3 linked regions of the Homo sapiens genome follow. The protein of the gene in region 2 interacts with the protein of the main gene of each other region in a pairwise test. Each region holds a gene or a part of one and is shown on either strand. Other genes may lie near its edges.

Region 1 (7,819 bases), on a different chromosome or scaffold from region 2:
ATCAGAAACTCAAGAAAATACCACCAAATGGAAAAGTCATTTAATTCAAAAATCATACGTCCACTCATTTCATAGGGATTGTCACATAAACCAACCACATGTAAGAAAGCCAAGTTTCAGAGGCCTCTGAACAGAAATTTTGTTTTCTTTATAGATATATTTGGTGACACAAAAGCATTTTTTAAAAGCCTGAACATGGCAACAGGGCTACTAACAGGGACAAAGGTCTATTCTAGTCACAGATTACTTTCTAATTACAGCATTGGATTCTATGCACGAGTCAATAGTCAATACTGAAGTTTAGAACAGTGCGTTATTTTAAAAGAAAACATTAAAGTGCCATTTAATAAGTACTTTATTGATATTATATCACACAGCACTTTACAGTATACTCAAAGATAGCCTAAATTATGAATTAAACATGCAAATATTTTCTTTTCCAAAATGTGGACAAAATGTCTTTTAGAGTGCTTTTGAACACTAGCCTTAGCTACTAAGCATTCATGGGTTTGATCTTTCTTGCGACATGACTTTAAGTAAGTTAACAAAAAATGTAGCTGTAGACAGTAATTGTTTGATAAATATGAACAGTTTTAAAATGGCACTGAATTTACATCTTTAATCATTTTAATAGGCCATCCACAGCCTCTCTTGTGTCTCTAATTCTCAACCTCCGAGTCTTAAAGGCTGTAAAGGCTCAGAAAGTGCCAGCTCATGTGGGTCTCTGTAAGTGTCTATGTCTTCATAGATGTAAATATGTGCTGTATACACACACATACACACACACATAAATATACTTTAGAATCAACAGATGTGCATTGTCAGATACAAGGTTGATTCTGGCATCTGGATAACCAAGAAAGCTGCTTTTAGGTGTCTGGACAACTTTGTAGAAATGGTTGACGTAGAACAGTATAGAATGTCTTAACCTCTCCAGGACTGCTCCAGGTAACTGACATTTTGTTTATCAATACTCTGGTTCTGACTAAAGTGAATTTTGACATGGACATGTCATGTCATGTCATACCCACACAAGGGTCTAGGTCTATGCTAAGCCTTTGCTCTCTAAAGCATTCCACCTTGAGAGACGTTTTCACTCTGTAATGTCTGGCACAACTTTTGTAAAAATATTAGCTGTGAAATTTTTCTGTGATCGCTTTTTTTTTTCTCCTCAGTAAGCATAATATTTATCCTTCTAAAAAAGTATCCAAAGCTCCTTAGGATGGTTCACCTTTCTCTTTCTCTCTAGTCCTGGTGTTACTTTGCATCCAACACTTTTTCCTCTCAATAATACAGGTGCTTCCACTGGAAGACCACATTTCAGCAAGGACTGGCTCTGAATGACACCTGGATTCTATGGCCTTTCCCTCCACTTTGGGAAGCTCTTTAGTTAGACAGGTACTGTAGGCGGCAGGAGAAAAAAAGCTAATTATTACTTGTTGGAGTCTTGTCTCAGGCATGCTGTGGGGCTGTGCAAGATTCGCTGCTCTGCTGCTGTTGTCATTTTGATGCTACAATTACAGAGAGGCGGTTCAGCACCCAGCCGATCGGTGTGGCTGCCAAACACATTTGAGCATGACAAGATAAATTTGTTAGACACCAGCACAGGGTGGGTGAGAAGACATCCTGCTGACTTTATAAAGTGATGTGGGGCAGGGTTGTCGAGGTAAGTGATGATTGTCAAGTTTGCCAGAGATGATAGATAACTCCTTTGGCAGAACACCTAGGTCATTCCTTTTAAAGTCAGGTAGCTAAGAGGCTGTTTGGTTTCTGCAGCGCTGGCTACCTACTTGGGGAACATGGTTGCTCACAAAACATTCAGTACTTGGGCAAACTCTGGGTGCCATGGTGGCCACTGCTGTCTCCGGGAGTGCCATGTCCACAAAACTCAGTCATCCAGACTTGCTTTTGGGAGCAGAAGCCAGAGGATGACAGGTGCCAACAGACAGGCAGGGATCAGGTTATCTTTGGCTTCTTCTTTCTGTCTTTCTCCCCCTCAACTGTGAATGCTTTTGGAGCCTCTGCAGTCAAGACAGAGCTTTTACTGAGACAGCAGTTGCCATTTTCAGCTGATAGAAACTCAGGGGATAGAAGGCCTTCCCTTTGAGCCGCAGGTATGGCACACACAACTCTGCAGCTCTGGGCAAGTGCCTTGGGATGCCCTTGTCACTAGTATGGCTCTGTCCTGCTAATGCCAGTCTGTCAATACTTGATTGTTCATTCTTTCTCTTTGCCTCTCACCGAAAAGCACTCGGTGAGAGGAAATGAACTGATATTCAAAAAGACAGTGTGGTCTGACATAAGAAAACACATATTGGCCGTATAAATACTTCAGACATTAAGCTAAAGACTGGCTCCAATTCTAGGACACCAAGGCAGGCCACAATGCACAGGGTCCATCCCTATATATGTTTATTTTGAAAAACAGGAGAAAAGATCTTCTGTCTTGAGCAAGTCAGGGTTTTACTTGCCTGGGGGCAGGGATTTGAAACCAGCTGTCTTCTCCTGGCATGGCATTCTTTTTTTTTTTTTTTTTTTTTCCTTTGAGACGGAGTCTGGCTCTGTCACCCAGGCTGGAGTGCAGGGGCGTGATCTTGGCTCACTGCAATCTCTGCCTCCTGGGTTCATGCCATTCTCCTGCCTCAGCCTCCAGAGTAGCTGGGACTACAGGCGCCCGCCACCACACCCGGCTAATTTTTTGTATTTTTAGTAGAGACGGGGTTTCACCGTCGTAGCCAGGATGGTCTCAATCTCCTGACCTCGTGATCCGCCCGCCTCGGCCTCCCAAAGTGCTGGGATTATAGGCGTGAGCCACTGCACCCGGCCATGGCATTCTTTAGCTACGAAATTTTGTTAGTAACCTGAAGGAAGAGTGAGAGGCTGACCTTAATACCCCTAAAAGATTCAGGCTATGGCTAAGTGATCCCTGGGTCTTACAAAGGAAACTGGAGGCTACTGGGAAAGCTCAGGGATCCTGGGCCATGGTCTTCCACTCTGATAACCAATTCATTCTCCTCATCTGCCCTAAAGTTTCCTGTTCACACAGAGAGAGTCAGAGGTAGGGGGCATGGATAGGGGAGAGAGTAAAATCTTTAGTCTTCAAGTTCCTTCCTACTCATTGGCTCATATTCTGAAGTTTATCCAGTTTTGTAGCTAATAGGAAGGAGGGGAGCCTGGCTGGGCAAAGGGAAACAGAGAAGCCATCTGTCAAGGGCACCGCACAGCCACAGGGAAGCTGGGGAGGGGGTACCTGAAAGATCCCATTGGCAGCAGCTCATGGGCACTGCACAGACACACGGAAGCTAGGGAGGGAGTTACCTAAAAGATCCCATTGGCAGCAGCTCTGTTTCTCCCGATTTCAAATCAGAGCCAACTCAAGAGGGAGGGACATGCTTCCAAGCAGTGAAGCTGGGGCCAAATGTCTACAGGGATGCTTCGTGAGGCACCCCCAAAGCAAGGATCTTGGCCTTCTGTTCCTCCACATGAGCTCCAGGTAAGTTTATGATGGGACAGATTACAACTTCAAACATCAAATGTGGTCGGCCGCAGCGGCTCACACCTGGAATCCCAGCACTTTGGGGGTCTGAAGTGGGCAGATCACTTGAGGTCAGGAGTTCGAGATCAGCCTGGCAAACATGGCAAAACCCCATCTTTACTAAAAATACAAAAAACTAGCTGGGTGTGATGGCTCATGCCTGTAGTCCCAGCTACTTGGGAGGCTGAGACAGGAGAATCACTTGAACCTGGGAGGTGGAGGTTGCAGTGAGCCAAGATTGCGCCACTGCACTCCAGCCTGGGCCACAGAGTGAGACTCCATCTCAAAAAACAAACAAAAACACAAATAAAAAACCTCATCAAATGTGTTAAAAGCATGATGTTGGTCTCTCTTTGAGAAGCGTAATAGTATGTGAATGCACATCCCCTGAGGCCTCCATTTCCCAAGGTCTTCTTGTCCTCAGGTTCACAGATCTAACCTACTAGTATACTCCCTTTCTTCTCGAGTTTTCCCCAGTGGCTTTCTTGAGTTCTGTCTTGGTCCTGTCCATTCTTAATTCTCATTCCCTGATTCAATGGTAGTGTCTCGCTTGCTCCTGGGTGAGTTCCCGGAAAAGAGCTGTATAATCCTTGAGCTGATAAACTGAGTAGTGAATCACCATGACAAACCCCTGTTAACTTTAAAACCACCTGTAAAGCTATGACGGCACAATCTATACCCCTCCTGGAGTCTTCCTCTTCTTTTGGGATCACGGGAATTGGAGGTGAAAGGGAAGAGTTTTAAAATGTTTAGGAGAAGGGAAAGCAGCAGCACATTGAGAACTGAACATTCTAAGAAGCTGGTTCTTTAAGAACTTACAGACGCACACAAAATTTGAAAACTAGCTTGTCCACATTTCTAAAGCCTCAGAAGATGTGGAGAAAAAGAAGTAAAGAGCACAGCAACTGACTCATCTCTTTCTGGCCTGATATCTTGGGGGTACCAAGAAATACACCTGAGAAGAAAGACAAAAACTCGAATGCCTGACCCCACTTATTTAAATCCTGAGCTTCATCTTACTACTAAGTAGGCATTCTTTGAAAAACTCATTGCCTGGAGATGCTCTTCCCATCTCCAAATCCAAAGCCCAAGGGATGCTTAAAAACACATAAAGACTGAACACCACTGATGTGTCGTGCCCACCAACAGGACAGCAGAGAGCAAGGCCATAGAAATGTCTTCTCTTTCCTTCAGGCCGAAGCGGGGACAGTGACCTTGACTCTCTTCAGCTTTGCCTCCCCTCTCTCCCTCTTAAACATACTTCTTCAGCAATCAAAGCCTAAGTGTGTGAGCAACTAACTTAAAGAATATCAAATATAAAACTTTGCCATATAGTATTTCAAATCACTCTATTTACAAGTTTATCTTTTCAAAAAAAAAAAAGTAAAAGATACAGTAATTCAACACAATTCAAGTTTTTCTTTTCTTCTTTAAAGTTCCCTAACAAGGAATTCCAGAAACAGGAAACACTCTGAAGCAACGCTGCCATCCAAGGGGCTCCTGGGGAGCTTGACGGTCCATCGGTTTGTAGTTTGTCTAGAGTCACCCTTGCAATGACATTCACATGTGGAAGATACGGATAACTCTGTTGTTTGCAGGCCAAGTGAATTTGAAATCTCCAGGTAGTACTTCCCCATCCAAGACAGTCTTCCACAAGATCCAGCCTCTTTTCACCAGCAAATTCCCTTTTTCAGAGGGTACTCATCCCACCCTCCAACCTTGGGTTTCTTCCTGAATCACAATGGCCTATATTAGTCTCAAGCCTTGAAAGACTGAGAAATAATTCCCTTTTTCAGAGTGGCAGTGAACATAGATGTGCTTTTAAACTATAGGCCATACGGTTAGCCTAGGAATTAACCTTGAAAACCACCACAGCACCAGTGTTCAGCAGCCCAGAGTAGGGCAAGGGGGCTGGCCAGTGGTGGGTTAGAGGCAGGCAAGGGTGGGAGCAGAGATGGGTGAATGGGAGGACATGGGGAAACCAGTCAGATGGCATCACCCATTGGGAGGCAGCATCTTACCCTTTAAAAAACAAACATCAGTTGCATGGAGGAACAGAAATATTAAGACTATGTAATTTAATCTCAAGAGGTTACTAGGGTGTGCTCCAAATATATTCCGATGCTGCTGAAATTAATCAGAAAGGGAACAGTTCCCAGCTACTATCCCATCTGCCTCAAGTAGACCACCCTAATTCCTTGATCCTGTGCTTCAAGTTGTTAGAAAACCATTCAAAAAAAGTGTACCAAAAAGGGGAGAAAAAAAATGTGTCATGCAAAGAGGATGTGTTATTTTATTTTTTTGGTTTGGTTTTAGAGTAGGTTGGGTTGCCGTGGTTACTAGGCGATGGATGGCAGCCCTTGGTGGCAGAGAGGTTCCTAGCCTGGGAGGGAGAAACGCAGGGTGTGTGTGTTCCCGTGCATGAGAAGACTGGATTGTATCTCACTGATGACAGGCCAACGGCTGCTTTAGAGATGGTGAGAGATTGGATCTTATATAAACAGTGTTTTAACCCTCTTCATCCTGCATGCAAACAGATCCAGCTGCCTGTAGCACTTTAAGTCTCAAGTACTGAGAGGTGGGGTAGAGAGAGTGCCTATTGTAAACAAAAGCAATGGATCCAGCCTGGATCTCAGCGCCAATTTCTTCACCCAGCCCCAGCAGGCTTAGCTACACAGTGTGCTCTCAGGGACTATTTCTATCTGACTTCCTCTTTCTGAAGGTTGGGCGTTTGGACCGTTGAAACAAAATGAGTGCCCCCTATTCAGGGTACTCATGAGAAAACGGCTTTGCAAGTCTTCCTCTTAGTTATCAAATGCTCTCCTCTGCTGATTGACTTCTTTTCTTGCAGTACTGATGCATGTTGGCTGAGATGATCATGGAGATGAGTGACACCAGAGCTCACAGAAACATTCATGTTGACAGGTAGCAACAGAGTCAGTCACGCTGCATTTCTCAGTGGCAAAGAGAAATGGCCTCGACACTGGAATCAGCAGTTGTCATGGATACCATGTAAAGCTCAGCAGTTCTGCTGGGGCCCACGGTTAGAGGAACTCCACGTAATTCTCAGGGATGAGGCCAGTCTTTCCGTTCAGAGTCCCCTCCAACCAGCCAGGCTCCTGAGATGGGTGAACTGTACAGGAAGGGGAGAGAAAGCGAGAAGAGATGGCATTACAGATAGAGCAGGCGGCAGATGTGTGTGTGGGGTGTGTGTGTGTGTGTGTGTGTGTGTGTGTGTGTGTGTATGAAGGAAGCTTGGACAATGAGTACAATCACTTATTAAGTTACATCATTCTAGAAGTTTAAACCAAAGGTTCTGAACCTTTTGTGGAATATAAGCCTTCTGATGAAAGCTGTCCTGAACTTTCTTTACAATGAAAAAGGAAACAGACACAGACATACAAAATTTTGTGTACAATTTTAGGGGTTTCACGGATTTTCTGAAGCTCCTGGTTTAAACTACAAAGAAGTGACAGATTCCTACTCTTGTTAGAGGGCAACAGTTGTCCTGGTCCATCCATACATGTATCCATCCTTCCATCCTTCCTTCCTTCCTTCCTTCCTTCCATCCATCCACCCACCCACCTGCCCAGTATCAACTATGTACTCAGTGCAGTGCCCATGGAAGACTGCTAAGAACTACTCTTTAAAGATATCCAGCTTCTAGAGGCTGGGCCTGGTGGTTCACGCCTGTAATGCCAGTACCTTGGGAGGCTGAGGCAGGTGAATTGCTTTAGCCCAGGAGTTTAAGAACAGCCTGGGCAACATGGCAAAACCTTGTCTCTACAAAATATACAAAAACTACCTAGGTTTGATGGAGCGTGTCTGTAGTCCCAGCTACTTGGAGGAGGGGGAGTGCCGAAGCGGGAGGATCGCTTGGGCTCAGCAGGTCGAGGCTGCAGTGAGCCGTGATTGCACCACTGCACTCCAGCCTGGGCGACAGAGCAAGACCCTGTCTCAATCAATCAATCCAGCTTCTTGTCATCATCTTACTTTCCTTCAAATCCTTACCCCCTGCTTCTAATTTCCTTGCAAATTTTCTGGGGTTTTTTTTTTTTTTTTTTTTGGTTGCTGTCATTTTGAATAGCCTTTGAATAGCCATTTCTCTGTTTCACTCACACCCTTTCTTAGTTTTCTTTCCTGTTCTCTAGATTTCCCCCTCCTCTATATACCAGTTTGAAAATTCTTCTCTTCCTCCCTCTATTGCCCTTTGATTTTTCAGTATCCAAAGAATATATATCTACTTTTGTGACATCATGATCCATCTCCATGGAAACCATTGTG
Region 2 (5,871 bases):
AAAAAACCCTTCCCTGTGGCTAGTATAAATGTTATCCCTAGTTTTCTCAATAACCCTGTGAGGTAGCTATCAGTGGCTCTTTTTTTTTTTTTTTTTTTTTTGAGATAGAGTCTCACTCTGTCACCAAGGCTGGAGTGGAGTAGCGCAATCTCGGCTCACCGCAACCTCCAGCTTCCGGGTTCAAGTGATTCTCCTGCCTCAGCCTCCCTAGTAGCTAGGATTACAGGCACGTGCCACCATGCCCAGCTAATTTTTGTATTTTTAGTAGAGACGGGGTTTCACCATGTTGGCCAGGATGGTCTCGATCTCCTGACCTCATGATCCACCCACCTTGGCCTCCCAAAGTGCTGGGGTTACAGGTGTGAGCCACCATGCCTGGCCTGCTCCATTTTAGAGATGGGGAAACTGAGTCTCAGGCCAGGTGCAACTCGGAGGTCCACGCTCTTTTGCTGTGTGGTGTCTGCTCTGTCTTCACTCTGGTTCCTCAGTGCCTGTGCTTACATATGAGTTATCTGGCTGGTAGCTCCGATTTGGCTCAGAATCACATCTGATCACATTAATGAGCCCTGACACTCCCTGACCTCCCTGCTAGGCATTCCTGATCACGTTGTTTTCTTCGTAGCCTTTACCACTGCTGGAAATCATCTCTTATTTGTTTACCAATTTAATATCCCCCTTCCAACTAGAATTTAAACTCTTAGAGAGCAGGGATGGCGTCTGCCTTGTATCCCCAGCACCCGGAGCCGTGCCTTGTATACTGGAGATGCTCAGTAAACAGCCGTGGATGGAATGAATCTTGAAGCAGCACTGTTAGACCCTCCCAGCTCCAAGCATCCCTCCTGCATGCTCCCTCGGTGCTCTTAAGCTGGAGAAGCTGTTGGTCCCTTGCACACTTTGTGGTTATTCTTTTATTCTTGGGTGTCCCCCACCAGACCCCAGCTGACTGGGCAGGGATTGGCCCCAGGCTTGGCACAGTGCCAAGCCCACCCCAGTGCTCAGCCACCTCTTGCCAAACATCTGAATCAATGTCACAGCAACACTTGGTTTGCTCCTGTTGCATTCTCATGACAGGCTCAGCGTCAGGTACGACGTTCTTGAGGGCAAGGCCTGTCCTCCACAAAGCCCTCTGGGGCTGGGGTCTCCAGAGGCAAGCCCTCAGCTCTGGGAGACTGTCTGCCTCCGGGAGGAAACCTGGGGCAAAGGGACAGGGAGCTCCGCCACCAGCAGCAGCATGTTTTATTGCAACCAGAATCCCCGGTCACGTGGGGAAGGGATTGGAGCTAGGGATGAGGCAGGACACATCTGGTCCCTGACAGGACACTCCCCGTCCAGGATGCAAAGCCAAAGGCCCGGAACAGCCTGCTCAGTGGCTGAGCCCTGTGGCCAGCTGTGCCCTGTCTCTTCCCCTGCCCCCAGTCAGGGCATCCAACGGGGCAGAGGCAGAAGGGACGTGAAAAGGGGGGTCGGTTTCAGCAAAGCCTTCACCCAGGGACCTGAAGGAAGAAGGAGTATTGTGATGGGGTCCAGGTGCCCCAAGATGCTCAGGGCGCCTGGGCTGACTTCAGGATGTGTCCATGTGGTTATCAGAGGAAAGCGATGGGGCCTGCCCTGCCCACGTGGAGAGGGAGGGAGAGGGGAAACACGGCTCAGAAGGAGAATCACTGGCCAGCGACCATACAGGTGGGATCTTGGGACCCTGACTCCGCCGCCAGGGCCGGGTCCACACCCCACCTCCTGGCTGGGCCCCACCTGGGACCCCAGCCTAGGCAGCCTCGTGTCCTATGTGGGGATCTGCATGCTGTCCAGGTCCTGATCCATGATCTGCAGGACATCATCCAGGATGGAAGGCCCCAGGTCCACGTGCAGGGACAGCAGGGAGCTGGCATTGGACAGGAAGGGCTCCTCGGCCCCTGACTCCGGGGTCAGTCCACTGTTGGGGGAGCCAGTCTCTGGAATCCTCCAGATGTCCACACTCCCTCCCTCCTGTGGGGAAGGCTGAGGGGTCTCCAGGTGCAGGCGAGGGGGCTTGGGTGGAGCCTGGGCTGTGGGCAGGGTGAGAGCCTGGGGTCCACCGATAACCGGGAGGGAGATGGCGTTCTTGAGCAGAGGGGATGGGCCGTCCGGGAGCTCCCGCCCACACACGGTGGCGGTGCGGGTGAACTGGAAGGGGAGGTCGAAGGTGCCATCTTCTTCAGGCCCCTCCACCATGGTCCCCGGCAGGAGGTGGAACTTGCCCTGCAGGAAGGAGATGTCGCCAAACATGTCACTGCCGCCGCCACTGCCAATATGAATGGTGTGGCGGAAGTCCCCCAGCGGTGGGCTGATCATGTCCGAGGACAGCAGGTCCCGAAGCTTCTCCTTCTTGCCCTTGCGACTGCCACGCTTCAGATAGATGGGCACCTTGGTGGACATGGTGACCTCACCACCAGGCCTGGCTGTGAGGCTACGGGCCGCCTGCTGAGACCACACCTCCTCTCCAACCCTCAGCCAGAGGAAACACTCGTTCCACGGGGTGGTTTGCAGGTGCCAGAGCTCGCCAACGGGCTTCTGGCTACAGTGTGGGGGCACGAACAAAGTTGGCCCAAGGAATTAAAAAAGATTAGAGATCAATGAAGTCAGTGGGCTGAGATAACAAAAATCACGTTCTCCCCAAAGGACGGCAAACTCTTCTGAAGAATTGAAGCCAGAAAGGTAGGAACTGTGTGGGCAGCAGTGCACTTTGGTCTTGTCACCGAGGGTTACTTGTCCCCGGTCCAGGGCTGAGGAGCTGAAACACAAAGGGTGCACACCTGTCAGAGACAGCGGGACCAAGGTCAGATGCAAACATCTTTTTTATTTTTAAGATGGAGTCTCACTGTGTCACCCAGGCTGGAGTGCAGTGGCGCAATCTCAGCTCACTGCAGCCTCCACCTCCCAGGTTCAAGCAATTCTTCTGCCTCAGCCTCCTGAGTAGCTGGGACTACAGGCACGTGTCACCATGCCTGGCTAATTTTTGCATTTTTTTTTAGTAGAGACAGGGTTTCACCATGTTAGCCAGGCTGATCTTGAACTCCTGACCTCAAATGATCCGCCCGCCTCGGCCTCCCAAAATGCTGGGATCACAGGTGTGAGCCACCGTGCCTGGCCAGAAACATCTTGTTTCTGGGCCTCTTGTGGTAGCCATGGGATCCTGAGGGGGTGGGGCACTCCCCTTGCAGGGAATTGTACTGGGAGAAGCATGTCTTCACTCTAAGACCTACTGCATCTTATAGACTCACCACCAGGGCCAAGCTCCTCCCCTTACAGGTGGGAAACTGAGGTGGGAACCTGAATGACAGGTCCAAAGTCACACAGAAAGTCCTGCTCTATTCTCTTGCCCTGGGTCCCCGGCAAAGTAGGTCTCATCACCCTTATCCAGGTACTCATACCATACCCCCCACCTCCATTGCACATCACCTGTGCCCCACAATGTAAGTGCCAGATTGTGGGGGGCCTCACAAATGGCCTTGACTCCCTACTTGACCAAGGACAGAGAGCTTTGTGACCACTGTCTCTCCCGCCCAAGCCTGGCGGGGACCTGGAGCACAGCAGATGTTTGGCCAAGGGTGCTGGGTGGCTGGCACTTCCCATTTGACCCAATCATGTCCCACCTGGAGGTGGGGTCGTGTTTTCTCCTCTGCCTATTAAGAGTTCCTTATGGGTAGGGGCTGAGTCTAGGATACTTTCTGGCCTTCCTCCCTACCCTGGCATCTAAAGAGAAGGTGGAGTGGGGAGTACATATATTTTTTAGTTGAGGGGGCCTCTGCTCTGTACCTGAAATTCTTCTGCGCTCTTTGCAGACACATCTCAATTAATCAACACAACCACCCTATTATCAACCCTATTTAAAAATCAGAGGTGTTGGGGCTGGGTGCAGTGGCTCACACCTGTAATCGCAGCACTTTGGGAGGCTGAGGCAGGTGGATCACGAGGTCAGGAGATCAAGACCATCCTAGCTAACATGGTGAAACCCTGTCTCTACTAAAAGTACAAAAAATTAGCCAGGCGTGGTGGTTCATGCCTGTGGTCCCAGCTATTTGGGAGGCTGAGGCAGGAGAATCGCTTGAACCCCGGAGGTGGAGGTTACAGTGGGCCGAGATCGCCCCACGGCACTCCAGCTTCAGCTACAGAGGAAGACTCCATCAAAAAAAAAAAAAAAATCAGAGGTGTCAAAATTCAAAATTGAACCTGAGGTGAACCTACAGGTGAAAAATTTTGGAGGATTCCCACAGGGCATTGCAGAGAGAGAGAAGCAAAATGCAAAAACATAATATAGATCATCCATTTATTGAAAGCATTGACTACCTACCTGCCTCCCTGCTCTGACACATATGCATGTTGTGTAACTGCATGGGTACAGGTCTGTGTAGAATTCTGTCCTATACAAAAAAAAAAAAAAAAAAAAAAAAAAAAAAAAAAAAAAAGTCAGGTGCAGTGGCTCACTTCTGTAATCCCAGCACTTTGGGAGGCCGAGGTGGGCGGATCACCTGAGATCAGGAGTTCGAGACCAGCCTGGCCAACATGTGGAGACCCCATCTCTACTAAATATACAAAAATTAGCCAGGTGTTAGGCCGGGCGCGGTGGTTCACGCCTGTAATCCCAGCACTTTAGGAGGCCGAGGCGGGCGGATCATGAGGTCAGGAGATCGAGACCATCCTGGCTAACACGGTGAAACCCCGTCTCTACTAAAAATACAAAAAATTAGCCGGGCATGGTGGCTGGCGCCTGTAGTCCCAGCTACTCGGAAGGCTGAGGCAGGAGAATGGCGTGAACCCGGGAGGCAGAGCTTGCAGTGAGCTGAGATCGCACCACTGCACTCCAGCCTGGGGGACAGAGAGTGTCTCCATCTCAAAAAAAAAAAAAAAAAAAATTTGCCAGGTGTGGTGGCGCAGGTCTGTAATACCAGCTACTCGGGAGGCTGAGGCAGAAGAATTACTTAAACCCGGGAGGCAGAGGCTGCAGTGGGCCTAGATCGCGCCACTGCACTCCAGCCTGGGCAACAGAGAGAGTCTCCGTCTCAAAAAAAAAATTTGCCAGGTGTGGTGGCACAAGTCTGTAATACCAACTACTCAGGAGGCTGAGGCAGAAGAATTGCTTGAACCCAGGAGGCAGAGGTTGCAGTGGGCCTAGATCGTGCCACTGCACTCCAGCCTGGGTGACAGAGTGAGACTCCGCCTCAAAAAAAATAAAAAAAATTAAAAAAAAAATTTAAAACACAGAGAAAAATCTAGAAGGCCAGCCCTAGGTTGTCATATGGGCTACCTTGACTAGGGTACACAGCAGGGATGGGGGGTGGGGTCACTGATATGGGAGGAAAGGAGTCATCAATAAAAATAACCTATAATATTTTGGTCCCATGACTATGACATGATAAATGTGTGTAATATATATAAATATGAAAAGATGGAACAGTGGTTTTCTCAAAGTGGTAGAATTTCAGGTTGATGTTTCCTTTCTTGTTCAGACCTCTATGAATTCAAATTCTTACTAATAAGCAATGTATTATTTATATGCACATATTTATGTAGTCAGAAAAAAATTAAGCTATTTTTAATGTGTAAAAATAAATAGCTATGAAGGGGTGTCATACTGATTTAACAGAAAAAAGAAATGAAGCAAGCACTCCCTCTGCTTGAGGGTGGGGGACGCACATGGGACCTGATTGGTCCAGTACACATGAGCCCAGATGTAGACTCAGCATAAAAGGCAAAGAGAGAAACTTGTCCAAGGTCACCCAGTGAGTAAGGGCAGCATGGGAATTCAAGCCAGATGAGCCCACCCTCCTGTACCACTCCCTCCCCAGGCCCAGCCAGGGGCTCACCAAAGGTGGCTCTTGCCAGTTCTTTGCCTCA
Region 3 (4,442 bases), on a different chromosome or scaffold from region 2:
ATTTCCTTTACTGCTTAAGACAGATTGGGTATGATTTTCTATCCCTTGTAAGAGAAGTCCTAACTGATGCAGATCATGGCTGTTCAAAGAATAGGCCCCCTGGAGGGCCTCTGTCCAGTTGTAGAGAACCAAGCCTCACAAAGATGGGATCCTTTTTTTAAGGACCCTGAGACTAACTTAATAAAAATAACCAGCCTCCAGCAGTCAACATTTTACAAGTGCCTACCAAGGAAAGAGTAGCAGATAGGAGTTGGACTTGGTATCATTTCAGGTGACTTACAGCCTGGAGATGCTCTTCCAAGCTGTAGAGGTGTTTATGCATTTAGGAGGCCCAGACCATCACTTAAAATGAAGTGATGATGTAACCATGGCAACGTGAGCTGAGGACTCAGCTACAAGGAGAGGAAGAGGAGGTGGTTTGAGTTGAGGGGAGCTCTGTGCCACTTTCATATCTGTGCCCAATGATGGGCATCCTGTCCACACCACGCCTTCCTGTCTGCACCACCACAGGTGATGGCTTTGTTTTCCAGCACCAATCCGGTGCCTAAGAGCAGGGCCTCTACTCCATCTCTCTGCAGACTTCAGGGAGAAGCACTGGAGTGACAAAAGTAAACATCGGAGGCTTCACTTGGGTGACACAGATCAAAGACTTTTCCAAAAAAAGAATGCTGCAAATGATGTTTAAAGTCATGATTATATTTAATATTATTAGGGTGGTGCAAAAGCAATTGTGGTTTTTGCCATTACTGTCTACGGCAAAAACCGCAATTACTTTTGCACCAACCAATATAAATTGTAACAGATTTGAGACAAAATATAAAATTTTTCAAATTGAGCAGAATTTATCAACCCAGAATCTATAATGTATGAAATAAATTAATAGAGAACCCAACAGATCATGTTATGTTGTAAATATAACATCTATCTTTAGGTTAAAGTAACATAGCAAAAATATATATTTATGGGTGCAAGACACATACATAATTTGTACCAATCTCACAGAACTAATTCAATTCAAAACAACAAAAAACTTACTCTATTATCTAATGGATGCAATAAAAATTAACCATTTGAAGATAAGTTCTCTTGCACTTCCCCTACTTACGTTTTTCCTGGCACCTGCTATACTGTGTATGTATTTCTTCACCGCTTTACTGCCTGACTCCCCTACTAGATCATAAGTTCCAAGAGGGCAAGCCCTCTGAAACACTGCTATGTCTCCAGCACCTAGAACTTGGCATGTAGTAGGCATCCAATACATAAGTGTTAAATGAGTGAATTTAAAACACGTACATGCCAGGAATGGTGGCTCAGGCCTGTAATCCCAGCACTTTGGGAGGCCGAGGCGGGGGATGGCCTGAGGTCAGGAGTTCCAGACCAGCCTGGCTAATATGGTGAAACCCCGACTCTACTAAAAATACAAAAATTAGCTCTTCCTTTCTCTGCCATTGTGGTGTGTGCTTGACTCTGCTTCTTGCCATGTCTTCTCATAAGACTTCCAGGATTAAGTGATTCCTGACCGAGAAATTAAAACAAAATCGCCCCACTCCCCAGTGGATTCAGATGAAAACTGGTAATAAAATCAGGTACAACTCCAAAAGGAGACATTGAAGAAGAACCAAGCTAGCCCTATAAGGAATTGCACATGAGAGGGCACACATATTTATGCTGTCTGAAGGTCACAGTCATGTTACCACATCAAGCTGAAAATGTCACCGCTCTCTGGAGAATTGTACATGTTTTATTGGGAATATATTTTTTCTTTCTGAATCTGTTATGAATGCATTGGTTGGCTGGGTTCAGTAATAAATATGTGAGACCTTTCATTAAAAAAAAATACAAAAATTAGCTGGGCATGGTGGCGCACACCTGTAGTACCAGCTACTCTGGAGGCTGAGGCGGGAGAATTGCTTCAACCCAGAAGGCGGAGGTTGCAGTGAGCTGAGATCGCGCCACTGCACTCCAGCCTGTGTGACAGAGTGAGACTTTGTCTCAAAAAACAAACAAAACATGCACACATTTAATCAATATAAAATATTATTTCTGCGAAGTCACTTCAAGCTGATACTGCATACTCCATATATGCTAAACTTCACAAGGTCTTTACCTCATACCTGACTCTCTTTCCTGACCCCCTGCGGGGTAAGTCAATGCCCTGGGGTTGCTTAGCCACTTGGTACTACCAGCTTTGGGCACCAGGTCTGTTTCAGCTCATTGGTGTATGCCCCGGCTGGCTTTTCCCATAGGGCAGAGTTGCACAAGTTGTGGGTGTGAAGCTGAGAGGTGAGCAGAGGAGGAAGGGAGGTAGACAGTCCTCATCCCAGTGTCCCTCTGAACTGCCGCGTGTGTTGCTCCAGCTTCTCAGCCTCCGCCTGGAGGTGCCCCAGCGCGGCAGGGCTGGGGTACGTGAGCACGGCATTCTTAGTGGCCAGCGCTACGTCCTTGAGCAGGCTGCAGAGGTGACTGCTGCCACGGAGGATCTCGTTGCGCACGTCCCTCTCCTGGGTCTCCATGCACAGCGTGTCCACCAGCTTCTGTCCCACCATGATGACCAGCTTGCTCTGAGTGATGATCTCCGCGGGCTGGCTGCTGCTGAGGCTGCCGTGAAATGCGCTGATGGCTTTGAAGAGCGCCCCAAAGTAGAGCCGGCAGTGTTCAGATAAGCGGGGTTTCCTCTCAGGAGTCTGTTGACTCGAAGGCTGAGGTATAAGAGGGCCAGGATTCTAAAGAAGGGAAGGAAGAAAATAGATAGGAGATTCAATCAATGGGCTGTGGCTGTCTGCCCTTTCCTGTTTTGGCTAGATTTGCAAGACTTTTTATTTTTTTTAAAAAAGCATGGTTTGGTTTGGGAAGCCCAATACTGCAACAGTTGTCTAACAAATTAATGTTTTCAAAGCACTGTAATATATAATATATACAATATTATATTGTAATACATACATATATAATTTTATTCAATCATCTCAATAAACCAACTACAAGAAACCCATTTTAAGAAACACATTGGCAATGACTATATTTATAACTTTTTTTTTTTTTTTTTTTTTTGAGACAGAGTTTTCCTTTATCTTCCAGGCTGGAGTGCAATGGTGCAATCTCAGCTTACTGCAACCTCCACCTTCTGGGTTCAAGCAATTCTCTTGCCTCAGCCTCCTGAGTAGCTGGGATTACAGGCACCTGCCACCATGCCCAATTAATTTTTGTATTTTTAGCAGAAATGGGGTTTCACCATGTTGGCCAGATTGGTTTTGAACCCCTGATCTCAAATGATCTGCCCACCTCAGCCTCCTTAAAGTGCTGGGATTACAGGGGTGAGCCACTGCACCCAGCTAAATTTGTAACTTTTAAAAATGCACAAAAACTTGATGAGATTTAAAATTTTCTCAAAGAACAGATTTAAAAACATTTAAAAAGCCAAAAATCCTCTGATTTCAGTATCAGAGATATATCAGAACTCTCAACATTTCCAGAAGCAACTAAATACCCTGACCTATCTGCCTTAATATTATTTATTTTATTTTTTGCCTTAATATTAAAATATTTATCATATTTGCTAATAAGGTTTCATCAAAATTTTACATTCATGAATTTTATTTTCTGGAAAATGGAACCAACTTCTCCCAAATCCTACATACTCTCAAAGATTTTCAGTACCTAACTTAGTGGCCACAACTCCAGGTAACAATTGAAAGGTGAAGCTCAGAGAAGAGAAAAGGCTGCCTCCGGCTATTCCATTAGCACATGAGAGATCTGGAGCTCTAGGTCTGAAACTTGCTTTCTTTCCATTAAATTTCACACGCTCGCATTTACCTATTATCTCAAAATTCATAGCCCGGAAGCATTCAGACAGATAGGGCATAAAACTGATTTTTTCAGAAGGGGGTTATGTCTCCTAGTAGGGTTGGAGGGGAAGTTAGACAAGGAAGAGGAAGGCATACTTCGAAGAAGCACCTTCATTATTAGAATTGCATATTTGGAAAATGAAAACAATGATTGTCTTTGTCATAGAAAGTGAAGGAAAGATTGAAATGTCAGTTCACATGGACTCTTGGAAGCAGGGAGTATAAGAATGAAGCAGGTTGAGTGCAGTGACCCACACCTGTAATCCCAGCACTTTGGGAGGCCGAGGCAGGAGGATCGCTTAACCCTAGGAGTTTGAGACTAGCCTTGGCAACATACGAAACTCTGTCTCTACCAAAAACAAAACAAAACAAAAATTAGCCAGGTATGGCGGTGCGGGCCTGTAGTCCCAGCTACTTGGGAGGCTGAGGTGGGAGAATCGATTGAACCTGGGTGGTGGAGGCTGCAGTGAGCCATGATCTCACCACTGCACTCTAGCCTCAGCAACAGAGCAAAACACTGTCTCAAAAAAATAAAATAAAAAAGGGAGCTGGGCACGGTGACTCACACCTGTAATCCCAGCACTTTGGGAGGCTGAGGCA

Evidence for each region.
Region 1: the proteins of CDC42EP2 (region 2) and ARHGAP26 interact in binary tests that used the Homo sapiens proteins (3 or more experiments, as listed by UniProt).
Region 3: the proteins of CDC42EP2 (region 2) and CASS4 interact in binary tests that used the Homo sapiens proteins (3 or more experiments, as listed by UniProt).

What each region holds. Positions count from the first base shown.
Region 1 is NC_000005.10:143,221,207-143,229,025, reverse strand, and holds the end of ARHGAP26 (rho GTPase-activating protein 26), read right to left. Parts: exon of another isoform or gene 7,603-7,819; intron 6,669-7,602; coding exon 6,580-6,668; 3' UTR 19-6,579; downstream 1-18. UniProt on the Homo sapiens protein: GTPase-activating protein for RHOA and CDC42. Facilitates mitochondrial quality control by promoting Parkin-mediated recruitment of autophagosomes to damaged mitochondria.
Region 2 is NC_000011.10:65,317,440-65,323,310, reverse strand, and holds the end of CDC42EP2 (cdc42 effector protein 2), read right to left. Parts: intron 2,790-5,871; exon of another isoform or gene 2,768-2,789; 5' UTR 2,413-2,767; coding exon 1,780-2,412; 3' UTR 894-1,779; downstream 1-893. UniProt on the Homo sapiens protein: Probably involved in the organization of the actin cytoskeleton. May act downstream of CDC42 to induce actin filament assembly leading to cell shape changes. Induces pseudopodia formation in fibroblasts in a CDC42-dependent manner.
Region 3 is NC_000020.11:56,456,621-56,461,062, reverse strand, and holds the end of CASS4 (cas scaffolding protein family member 4), read right to left. Parts: intron 2,724-4,442; coding exon 2,316-2,723; 3' UTR 681-2,315; downstream 1-680. UniProt on the Homo sapiens protein: Docking protein that plays a role in tyrosine kinase-based signaling related to cell adhesion and cell spreading. Regulates PTK2/FAK1 activity, focal adhesion integrity, and cell spreading.